Homo sapiens: one gene and its partners. The protein of the gene in region 3 purifies or fractionates together with the protein of the main gene of each other region. This does not show direct contact. Each region holds a gene or a part of one and is shown on either strand. Other genes may lie near its edges. The genes, in order: SRBD1, TMOD3 and USP45.

Region 1 (3,654 bases), on a different chromosome or scaffold from region 3:
GATATCCCCAGTTGAGAATCTCTGCTTTAGAGTCATATTAGGTGCTCTGAAGATATTTGTTAAGTAAATGACTGGTAATATTTATAGTAATAAGTACTATAAAGAAAAATAAAACAGGGCAGGGGATAGAGAGCATAGTGAGTGGTTGCAGTCGGGGGGCATTTTGGATAGAGTAGTCAGAAAGTTATTGCGGAAGATGTGGCAAGAGATCTAGATGAGATTTGGGGGTGCAGCTTGCAAAGATCTTGGGGATGGGTGTTCCAAATAGAGAAAGCAGCAAGTGCAAAGACCCTGAGGCAGGAATAAGTTTGGTGTGTTCAGGGAACAGCAAGAAGACCAGTGTGGCCAGTCTAGAGACATGAGGCAGAGAGTAGTAAGAAATGAGATTGTAATGAGTAGGATCTGGATCTAATAGGCTTAGATCCTTCTCCTTAGTCCCTTTAACTTCTCTTCTCACCACCCTCTAAATGTTGGAATCCCTCAAGGCTTAATTCTAAGCCCTCCCCTTCCTCCACCCCCCTTCCCCTCTCCCCTCCCTGTTAGTAGCTGATCTTGTCTTATGGCTCAATATAAAAATCTCAATTTTATACAGTATCTCCAACTTGATCTTCCCTGGTATTAGAATTTTATTTGAAGTGGGTTGGGAGGCCACTGGAAGGTTTTGGGTTGGGATGTTACATGACCTGGGTTTATATTTGTAAAATATTCTGGTTTCTTGGTGGAGAATAGACTATAGCGGGCAAAACTGGAAGTAGGGGAAATGAGTTAAGGAGATTATTGTAGAAGCATAGGATTCTAGATGTGAAAGTGATGAGAAATGGTCTAATTTGGGATATATTTTGAAGGTAGAGTGGACAGGACATGGTGGTGGATTGGATTTGGGGTATGAAAGAATGACAGACATTTTGGAAAGACTGGAAGAGGAACAGGTGTGAGAGTGGTGGAATCGGGAATTCAGTTTTGGACTTGGTAAGTTTGATGTGATTGCTGGACATTCAGGTGAAAGTGGATATACAAGTCTTGAGCTCAAGCGGGGAAGGTCGAGTTGGAGATACTATATAAAATTGAGATTCCCAGCTGGGTGTGGTGGCTCACACCTGTAATCCCAGTGCTTTGGGAGGCCACGTCGGGCTGATCACTTGAGGCCAGGAGTCCGGAGTCTAGCCTGGCCATCATAGTGAAACCCGGCTCTACTAAAAATACAAAAATTAGCCAGGCATGGTGGCACGTGCCTATAATCCCAGCTACCTGGGGGACTGAGACGTGAGAATCACTTGAACCCAGGAGGTGGAGGTTGCAGTGAACCGAGATCACGTCACTGCACTCCAGCCTGTGTGACAGAGGGAGACTCTGTCTCTAAATAAATAAATAAAAATAAAATATAGATTCCTGTATCGAGAAAATACAAGATTACCTGGCAAGAGAGCATAGAGGGCTGAGGACTAAGCCTCGAGGGATTCCAGCATTTAGAGGTTAGGGAGAAGAGGAGTCAAAGGGGCTAAAGAGAAGCTGCCAGGAAGTAGTATGAAAACCAAGGGCTGGGGTTCCTGTATGTAAGGGATATGCTCTAAGGGGTGAGTGCCAGATGCTCCTGAGAGCTCAAGTGATTGGGAAGGAGAGTTGACTAGCTGCCTTAGAACTATATCATGTATAACACAACGGTATCTGTGCTTGTGTTTTGTTCATAATAACTAAAGGGCCTTTAATCTTGGTGATATTCCTTTGTGAAATAGGGTTAGTCAGTAATCCTGGTTGATAGGTGATGAGACTAAGGAGGGAAGAAGTCATCCTGCTCAGTTTGATGATAGTATGAGGAGTGGAACCCTAGTTTTCTATTTCATTGGTTTTCTAATTATAGTTTCTTTCAGTTCCACTGCTGTTATGTTATTCTGATTATTCCTGTTTTTTGTTTGATTGTTTGTTTTTCCTTACCAGGCTTAGTGGTACCTCTGAAGAGAACACCAGTAGTTTGACCTATCATAATTATTCTCTTCTAGAGCATAATTTAGCTAAGAAGTCATCCAGTCAGGTTTTTGCCCCCAGCAAGAACTTAACATTAAAAAACCCAGACTTCCCTATTCACTCATCTCAGTAAAGGAAGTCTCACTAATATTGACCTTTTACATTAGAGTAGAAATGGAATTAACTGGGTTGGCAGGAGCATGATGGTCCTTTAAAAGAGTTCCCATGGCTGCTTTTTCTCTGCTCTTGCTGTGAGTTTGATTCTTCGTTGTTAGAAAAGTACTATAGTCGCACCTGATCCAATCTAATCAGGAAAGAAATCCATTCTGTGAAAGGAAAAAAGGGTTAATTAAAGCAGTTGGAAGGGTCTTGGTGCTGGCTTTTAATGTAATTTAGTGTGTTTCCTAGAGCCATTTCTCAATCCTTTCATTGATTTGAATAACTTAATACAATTTAAATGAATTTGATTAGTAGTTGGGAACTTATTTAAGTGCTTTTCACTGTTAAAATTGAAAAGCTCACATTGACTATAGTTTGACATGACCCAGTAAATTACTTAAGGTAATAAATGATTTTCTATGTCTTGAATGAATGTGTGTATGTGTTTGTCAGTTAGGTGAGAAGAGAATGGAGAGACAGAGCTGTGATTTACAGCATACTGCGGTATTTTTATACTGGTCCGTCATCAACTCTGTTGGTTCAATTCTTAGCAATAACTGTTCACAGCCTGTACTCAATCACTCCATTTTATATTAAACACCTCCTACTTTATCATTTTTTCAAGAATCTTGCATCTCTTTTTTACCTTTGACATTTGCTTTTATTTTTCCTGGAGATTATTCTGTTGATTTACTTCTAGATCATCTGCCTCTGAAGAAGATGACAAGGAAGATAGTGCCTGGGAGCCCCAAAAGAAAGTTCCCAGAAGCCGTAAACAGCCCCCTCCCAAGGAATCCAAACCAAAGAGGATGCCTCGGGTGAAGAAGAATGCCCCACAGATCAGTGATGGCTCAGAAGTCGTTGTTGTTAAGGAGGAGCTGGTAGGTGCTACAGCTGGATAGAGGGAACTCTGTAGTGTCTTCCTGATTGGTGATGTTATTTTCTTATTCTACAGAGTAGGACAAGGCATGTAAATGACAAAAACTGCCAGCAATGGCATCCCCTACCCTGGGTCTTAATTTTTGGGTCTGTACTGTGTTTCTTTGTCTATTCCCTTTTCCCTCTCCTAGGAGTTGGTCTGGGTGTGGTAGTGCTGGTAATGATGGTGGCATTAGCAAATAGTTGAGTGCTTACCATTAGCCAGGCAATGTGCTCAACATTTCATTTAAATGATCTTAATCTTTATAACAACCATTGAGGCAAGTGCTTTTATGCTGATTTTATAGATGAGAAAGCTGAAGAAAGATGTTAAGTGACTTGCTCACGGTGTACAGATAGTAAGTGATGGAACTGGGTTTCTAAGTTAGGAACATGATTTTGTCAACATTTTGGGAACAGATATATCTCTCTTGGGTGTTTTTACATCAGTTGTGTTCACAAGAGAGATAAATACAACCAGAGTGCTGGTTTAATATTTAATAGTTTAAAATAATAATCTTAAGGACTTGAAATTCTTATGGCCAGCATTTCGTTCTCCTTGGAGCCTAATCTGAATAGGGAATTAAGTAGTAATCAGAAATTTACTTGATGAGC
Region 2 (3,654 bases), on a different chromosome or scaffold from region 3:
TTTGTGCTCTTCTGGTTCTGGTTATCTGTGTTCTTTTCTGGCCTTCTGCCTTGACCATTTCTTTTGGCCCCTGCCTTGGAAATTAGTACATAATTTACCCTCATTTTGGCTTCACATGATCCAGCTACAGCAAGACCCAAATAAGAAAAGATGTTACAGCGACATTGATGAAGTTGGTCTAACACAGAAACTGAAAGAGTGAGAGAGACAGAAGAAAGAAGCATGAAGTAGGGAATGAGGAGTAGAGAATGTCACCAACGGGGAATTACATGTGACCAAAAAATCAAAAGATTATGACTGGGTACATATGAAAAATAGGTACAGGCCAGGTGTAGTGGCTCACACCTGTAATCCCAGCACTTGGGGAAGCCGAGGTGGGTGGATTGCTTGAGCCCAGGAGTTTGAGACCAGCCTGGGCAACATGGTGAAACCCCATCTCTACAAAAAATACAAAAATTAGCCGGGCATGGTGGCACACAACTGTAGTCTCAGCTACTCAGGAAGCTGAGGTGGGAAGATCAATTGAGCCCAGGAGGCAGAGGTTGCAGTGAGCTGTGATCCTGCCACTGCACTCCAGCCTGGGTGACAGGGCAAGACCCTGTCTCAAAAAAAAAAAAAAGAAAGAAAAGTAGATACAGTCATCCATGGGTTCAACCAACTTCAGATCAAAAATATTTGGAAAAAAATTCTATGAATTTCCAAAAGCAAAATCTGAATTTGCTGTATGCCAGGTACTATGTTGAATCCACAAAAATGAAGTGATGTGTAGGCATTGTATTAGGTATATTAAGTAACCTAGAGGTAATGAAAAGTATACAGGAGCATGTGTGAAGGTTATATGCAAATACTATGCCATTTTCTATAAGGCACTTGAGCATCTGAAGATTTTGGTATCTGCAGATGGTCCTGGAACCAACCCCCAACAAATACTGAGGGACAACTGTACATGTGAGAGCTATGGGCTACTGTGTCAAACTGAAACAACTAATGACAAACATTAAGGCAGTTAATTAATGTATTTATTTATGGCATGTACAATATGTAGTAGGTACTGTATCAAATTTTAATCTCTTAATATTTTCTCTAATTTCTAGGCTTTTGCAGAAATGCTGAAAGTGAACAAAACTTTGAAGAGCTTAAATGTGGAGTCCAACTTTATCACGGGAGTTGGGATTCTGGCACTGATTGATGCGTTAAGAGATAATGAAACCCTGGCAGAGCTCAAGATTGACAATCAGGTCAATGTTCTACAATAATAACGTCGAGGAAGCTACAGCCCACGCTGCTGTGTAGGGCTTGGCGACTCAGGATGGGGATGGGAGGCGGGCTGTCAGGGATCCCTGTTGGAAGATGCTGGGCTGAAAGGAGAGCTGACATTTGGGGTATCTAGAATATTAACTCAGTGTATATAACAGTGTATACAATGTAAAGGTGTATACTCTCCCTAGATCATTTTAAGAGAATTTAGATGGCTATCTAGTTTGAACTGAGAGGACTCTTACATGTGACCTAGTCCACCTTCCAATTTTTCAGCTCTGTGCTGGCAAGGTCCACATTGTAGGGTTTTTGTAAAAGGCAGAGAGATACATGTTAGAAATGTTTCCATCCAGAGTAGCTATTAATTTTTTTATTTGAAAAAATAACTCCATTTATTTGAAAAAATATTTGTTAAATGTCTCCTTCAGTCCTTCAAAGTAAATACATTTTGTAAACTATGAAGGTGGAAAAGAGGATTATGTCTTAAAATTTAACCCAGTGCTTCATAATCCATGTTTTTCATTTTTTTATTGAGATATAATTACATACAGTAAAATTCATTTTCTTAAAGTATACAGCTAAATGGTTTTTAGTATATTTGTAGAGTTTTGCAGCCATTACCACTAATTCCAGAACATTTTCATTACCCCAAAAAGAAACCCCATACCCATTAGCAGTCACTCCCCATTCACCCCTCTCACCAGGCTCTGGCAATCACTCATCCACTTTCTGTTTCTTAGGATTTGCCTATTCTGGACAGCTTATATCTGTGGAATCAAACAATATTTGATCTTTTTGTGCCTGGCTTCTTTCACCTGGCATAATGTTCTGGAGGTTCATCTGTATTGTAGCATACATCAGGACCTCATTCTTTTATGACTGAATAATATTCTATTCCATTTGGGGTGTGTCCACATACGGGCCACTAGAAATAATGCTGCTGTGAACATTCATTACAAACTCTAACATGGACATAGATTTTCATTTCTCTTCAGTATATAGCTAGGAGTGTATTGCTGGGTCACATGGTAACTCTATGTTTAACTTTTTGAGCAGCAGCCAGTTTTCCACAGTAGCTGTACCATTTTACATTCCTCTCAGCAATGTCCCCATTTTTCCACATTCTTGCCAACACTTGTTATTATCTATCTTTTTTATTATACTTATCCTAGTGGGTATGAAGTGATATGTCATTATAGTAATTCACACTTTTTTGATGTCTATATGATCATATTACTGAACTTTAAAAAGTTTAGTGTGTGTGTGTGTGTGTGTGTGTGTGTGTGTGTGTGTGTATAAAGTTCCAGTGAGGCTGTGGTGATGATTGGGTCAATGGGTAAAATCCCCTTCCTGTGACAAACATTTCATAGCTTTAAGTGACCAGTTTTCTACAACAAACAATTTGTTCTCAGTTACAAATCAGTACTTGGAACTACTGAACTATGTATATGTTGTAGGAATTGGGAACATTTAAAGAGATCAAAGAATTAGCATGTGCCTGAATGTCTTAATTTACCTTGAAAAGTATTTTGATCTAGTTTATTAATATTGTTCTTTTTTTCTAATTACTCCAGAGGCAGCAGTTGGGGACAGCTGTAGAATTGGAAATGGCCAAGATGCTTGAGGAAAATACAAATATCCTTAAATTTGGATATCAGTTTACACAGCAGGGACCACGAACCAGAGCAGCTAATGCTATAACAAAAAACAATGACTTAGGTAAGACATAGTATCGATCAAGTTTCTGAGTTCTATCACAAGCTAACGTATTGGGGGAACTTCTTTCCCTCTTAAGAATAAATTCTAACAGAGAAGTTATTTGGCCTTTGTTTCTAAAATCTGCATGGTCCTTTATATACTGATTGAATTCAAGTTCAATTAAAGTGAGGTTGTGATGATTGGGTCAATGGGTAAAATCAGCTTCCTGTGACAAGCGTATTTCATAGTTTTAAGTGACCAGTTTTCTACAACAAACAATTTGTTCTCAGTTACAGATCAGTCCTTGGAACTATTGAAACAAAGATTTCAACATTATCGGAAAGTTTTTTGCCCTTTTAATCAAGCGGACCCAGATAGAAATTCAATTTTATATGATAGAATGTGGATATAGAAATATATAAAATAGAGAATAATTATATTTCTCACCCAGGTTTTTTGTTGTTGATTTTTTTTGAGACGGAGCCTCGCTGTGTTGCGAGGCAGGAGTGCAGTGGCGCCATCTCGGCACACTGCAACCTCCGCCTCCCAGGTTCAAGTGATTCTCCTCCCTCAGCCTCCCGAGTAGCTGGGACTACAGGCGTGCGCGCCGTGCCCAGCTAATTTTTGTATTTTTTTTTTTTTTTTTTTTTTTGAGACAGAGTCTTGCTCTGTCGCCCAGGCTGGAGTGCAGTGGCACGA
Region 3 (3,654 bases):
TGTCCATTTATAGCAACACCCTCTGCCTTGCGTCCATTGCTCCCTACAACCATGAATCTCTTCTCATTCTATAATTATGTTATTTCATGAACATTATATAAATGGAATTATATAGCATATATCTTTTGAGTTATTTTGTGTGTTCAATCTCTGTGCTTTTTAGTTAACAGCATTTAATACTTTTGAGGTTTGCTCAGTAATGGTAGCACTTTGGTGTAGCAAAGAAAATGTTGAGATTTTGTTTTATCTTATTCAGTAGGTTTAACTTGCCAACATGTAAGTCATGCTATCAGCGTGAATCATGTAAAGAGAGCAATAGCTGAGAATCTGTGGTCAGTTTGCTCAGAATGTTTAAAAGAAAGAAGATTCTATGATGGGCAGCTAGTACTTACTTCTGATATTTGGTTGTGCCTCAAGTGTGGCTTCCAGGTAAGAAAAGTATTATTTATATGTGAGTTTGTCTGAAATGTTTTCCTTAAATGCTTATTGTGAGTTGGACTGTTGGTCATGCATAGGAGTTAAGATAAATTTATTCCAATTTAGATAGAAATTTTCCAGGAATGAACTTAAAAATGATTGTTAAGGTAAAGTAAAAGGTATGCTATGTTCAGAAAGTAATCAGGTGTGGTTTATAAATACTTGCAGAGGTAATTCAACCTATTTGCAGTAGTTCCCATATCTGGACCAGTCTTTACCTTTTGTATTTACTTAGGAAATGGATCTACCTTTCAGATTAATTTTTTTCTCTCTCAAAACAGATTATTCTGCTGCTTTTGCAAAGTAATTTAAAATCTTAAAGTTTAAAAGTTATTGATATCTGTAATAAAGGAATTTTTTTAATGAAATTAAAAGTATATACTTTTTTAAAAAAATAAGAGAAATCTTTATTATTTCACACAAAATGTCCAGAAGTAAGGCCACTTCAGGATTAGTTAATTTAATGGAAAGAACATTAAAAACTGAGGTTTATTCTGTTTTCTGCTGTGCCATCCTCAACCTCATGGTTGTGTTCCTCTTAAAAAACAAACAAAAAAAAAGCCTTCTGGAAAGATTCAGCGGATTTGACTTCCCCTCATGTTGCATTAACCAGAATTGCATCTCATTTCTTTACTTACCTAGTGAGGGAAATCGCTATGATTGGTCTGTGTCTCAGTAGTTCTCAGTAGGCTGGGGTGAAGTTGTGTACGGGATTGGGAAATGTGTGTTTGCAGAAGGGCACCACTGGCCTGCCAGGATGCTGGGTGTTCCACAGTGTGCACATTTTTAAATGATAGGGAAATTAACTTTGCCCATGATTGTTTTAGGTAAATACTGTATATTGAGCATGTTAGCCTGTTGGCAAGAAATTAAATTTAATGAGAATCCATATTACTTTTTTGAAACTTTCTCCTCTGGCCTGAAATTAAAAACAAAACTTTTCAGTATAAGTGTGAGTATAATTTAAGTTTTGATTAATTTGAAACAAACATTTGTAAGTCATACAAAATAAAATTCTGTTCATCTTCAGGGATGTGGTAAAAACTCAGAAAGCCAACATTCATTGAAGCACTTTAAGAGTTCCAGAACAGAGCCCCATTGTATTATAATTAATCTGAGCACATGGATTATATGGTAAGTTAAATTTTGTTAGTTCTTGTGTCCACTAACCACAGCCCCCCAATTTTTTTTTTTCTTTAAGCTTTTAAGGTAAAATATTTAAAGATGTTCTATCAGCTTATGGTTTTTTAACCTGAACACAATCTATGGGATACTTCAAGAAAATTAATATTACCTGTGAATATAAAATTTAAATTGGAAAAATTTTAACTATCTCTCTACTTTTTGTTGTTGTTGAGACAGAGTCTCACTCTGTCGCCAAGGCTGGAGTGCAGTGGCGTGATCTCAGCTCCCTGCAATCTCTGCCTCGTGGGTTGAAGCAATTCTCCTGCCTCAGCCTCCTGAGTAGCTGGGACCACAGGCGCATGCCGCCATGCCTGCCTAATTTTATGTATTTTAGTAGAGACAGGGTTTCACCATGTTGCCCAGGCTGGTCTTTGAACTCCTGAGCTCAGGCAATATGCCCTCCTTGGCCTCCCCAAGTGCTAGGATTACAGGCGTGAGCCACTGCGCCCAGCCTTTCTACTTTTCTCTATCATTTTCCTTGTATAATGTAAAGAAAAATTCTTTTTAGTTGATTTTTTTGGTAGTGAACTTGCTAATACAGAATTCTAGTGTTGTAGAGAAGGAAGATACTTCAAGCAGTCAGGTCATTTTCTGAAGGGAGAGGGAAGAGCTGGGCATAAGTAGCTTGTAAAAACTTTTCAGGTCATTCTGCTGTTTAATCCTGGTTGAGAATCTAGTCCAGTTTCCTATGTTACCTGTAAGGAAACTATGTAATATTTACCTTTTTGTGGTTATGAAGTAAAAATCCAGGTACTAAAACAAGTTTTTTGTGGGGCGTGATGGCTCACACCTGTAATTCCAGCACTTAGGGAGGCTGAGGTGGGCGGATCACTTGAGGTCAGCAGTTTGAGACCAGCCTGGCCAATATGGTGAAACCCCGTCTCTACGAAAGATACAAAAATTAGCTGGGCATGGTGGCGCACGCCTGTAGTCCCAGCTGCTCAGGAGGTTGAGGCAGGAGAATCGCTTGAACCTGGGAGATGGAGGTTGCCACTGCACTCCAGCCTGGGTGATAGAGTGACACTCCGTTTCAAAAAAACCAAAAACAAGTTTTTTTATTTTCTAGTTTCTTATTAGCATATCACACTGTTTTGGTAGTATAAATGGACACTATGTTGAAATGCTTCCTCTGTGTTTTACAATAATTTTCCAACTTGAATCTATGGACTCCTAAGGGTTCCTTGAATGAATTTTCAGGAGTCTCAGATTTTCTTTAACATAAAAATATTTTGTCTAAAATTAATATAAGGGTATTTTGGCTCACAGAAGAGGTCATCATCTTTAATACAGCCAGAAGGGTTGGGCACCAGCTGCATTTGTGTTTTTATTTGTTGTTGTGAGTCCCAAGTAGTAGTACTGGGGAGAATGACGAAAGAACAGAGGGAACTTAATATATAAATGATGCATTGGAACCAATGGAGACAGCAATGGTGCCATAGTGTGGCAGTTCAATAAGGATTTCACTTTAGTGGTCTCAAACTCTAGGTGCATCAGAATCTCAGGGAGATCTTGTTATGACAGATTGCAGGATCCCAGTCTTAGAAATTCTAATTTAGTAGTTCTGGGGTGGAGGAGCCAGAGAATTTGCATTTAACAAGCTCCCAAGTGTTGCCAGTGCTGCTGGTCTGTAGACCACAGTTTAAGAATTACTGAATTAGAAAAAGGTGGGTAAGAAGATTGTGAACATGTAATGTAGCATTGGTGTAATGCATTATGTTTTTTTTTTTTTTTTTTTTGAGATGGAATCTCACTCTGTCACCCAGGCTGGAGTGCAGTGGCGTGATCTCGGCTCACTGCAACCTCTGCCTCCTGGGCTGGGAGTAGCTGGAATTACAGGTGCCCGCCACCACGCCCTGCTAATTTTTGTATTTTTAGTAGAGTTGGTATTTCACCATATTGGCCAGGCCAGTCTCGAACTCCCAACCTCAAGTGATCCTCCCGCCTTGGCCTCCCAAACTGCTGGGATTACAGTTGTGAGCCACTACACCCGGC

Evidence for each region.
Region 1: the proteins of USP45 (region 3) and SRBD1 purify together in Homo sapiens (affinity purification with mass spectrometry; one large-scale study listed by BioGRID and IntAct). This does not show direct contact.
Region 2: the proteins of USP45 (region 3) and TMOD3 purify together in Homo sapiens (affinity purification with mass spectrometry; one large-scale study listed by BioGRID and IntAct). This does not show direct contact.

What each region holds. Positions count from the first base shown.
Region 1 is NC_000002.12:45,601,251-45,604,904, reverse strand, and holds part of SRBD1 (S1 RNA-binding domain-containing protein 1), read left to right. Parts: intron 1-2,821; coding exon 2,822-3,002; intron 3,003-3,654.
Region 2 is NC_000015.10:51,899,061-51,902,714, forward strand, and holds part of TMOD3 (tropomodulin-3), read left to right. Parts: intron 1-1,094; coding exon 1,095-1,238; intron 1,239-2,831; coding exon 2,832-2,976; intron 2,977-3,654. UniProt on the Homo sapiens protein: Blocks the elongation and depolymerization of the actin filaments at the pointed end. The Tmod/TM complex contributes to the formation of the short actin protofilament, which in turn defines the geometry of the membrane skeleton.
Region 3 is NC_000006.12:99,505,385-99,509,038, reverse strand, and holds part of USP45 (ubiquitin carboxyl-terminal hydrolase 45), read left to right. Parts: intron 1-256; coding exon 257-429; intron 430-1,507; coding exon 1,508-1,611; intron 1,612-3,654. UniProt on the Homo sapiens protein: Catalyzes the deubiquitination of SPDL1. Plays a role in the repair of UV-induced DNA damage via deubiquitination of ERCC1, promoting its recruitment to DNA damage sites. May be involved in the maintenance of photoreceptor function.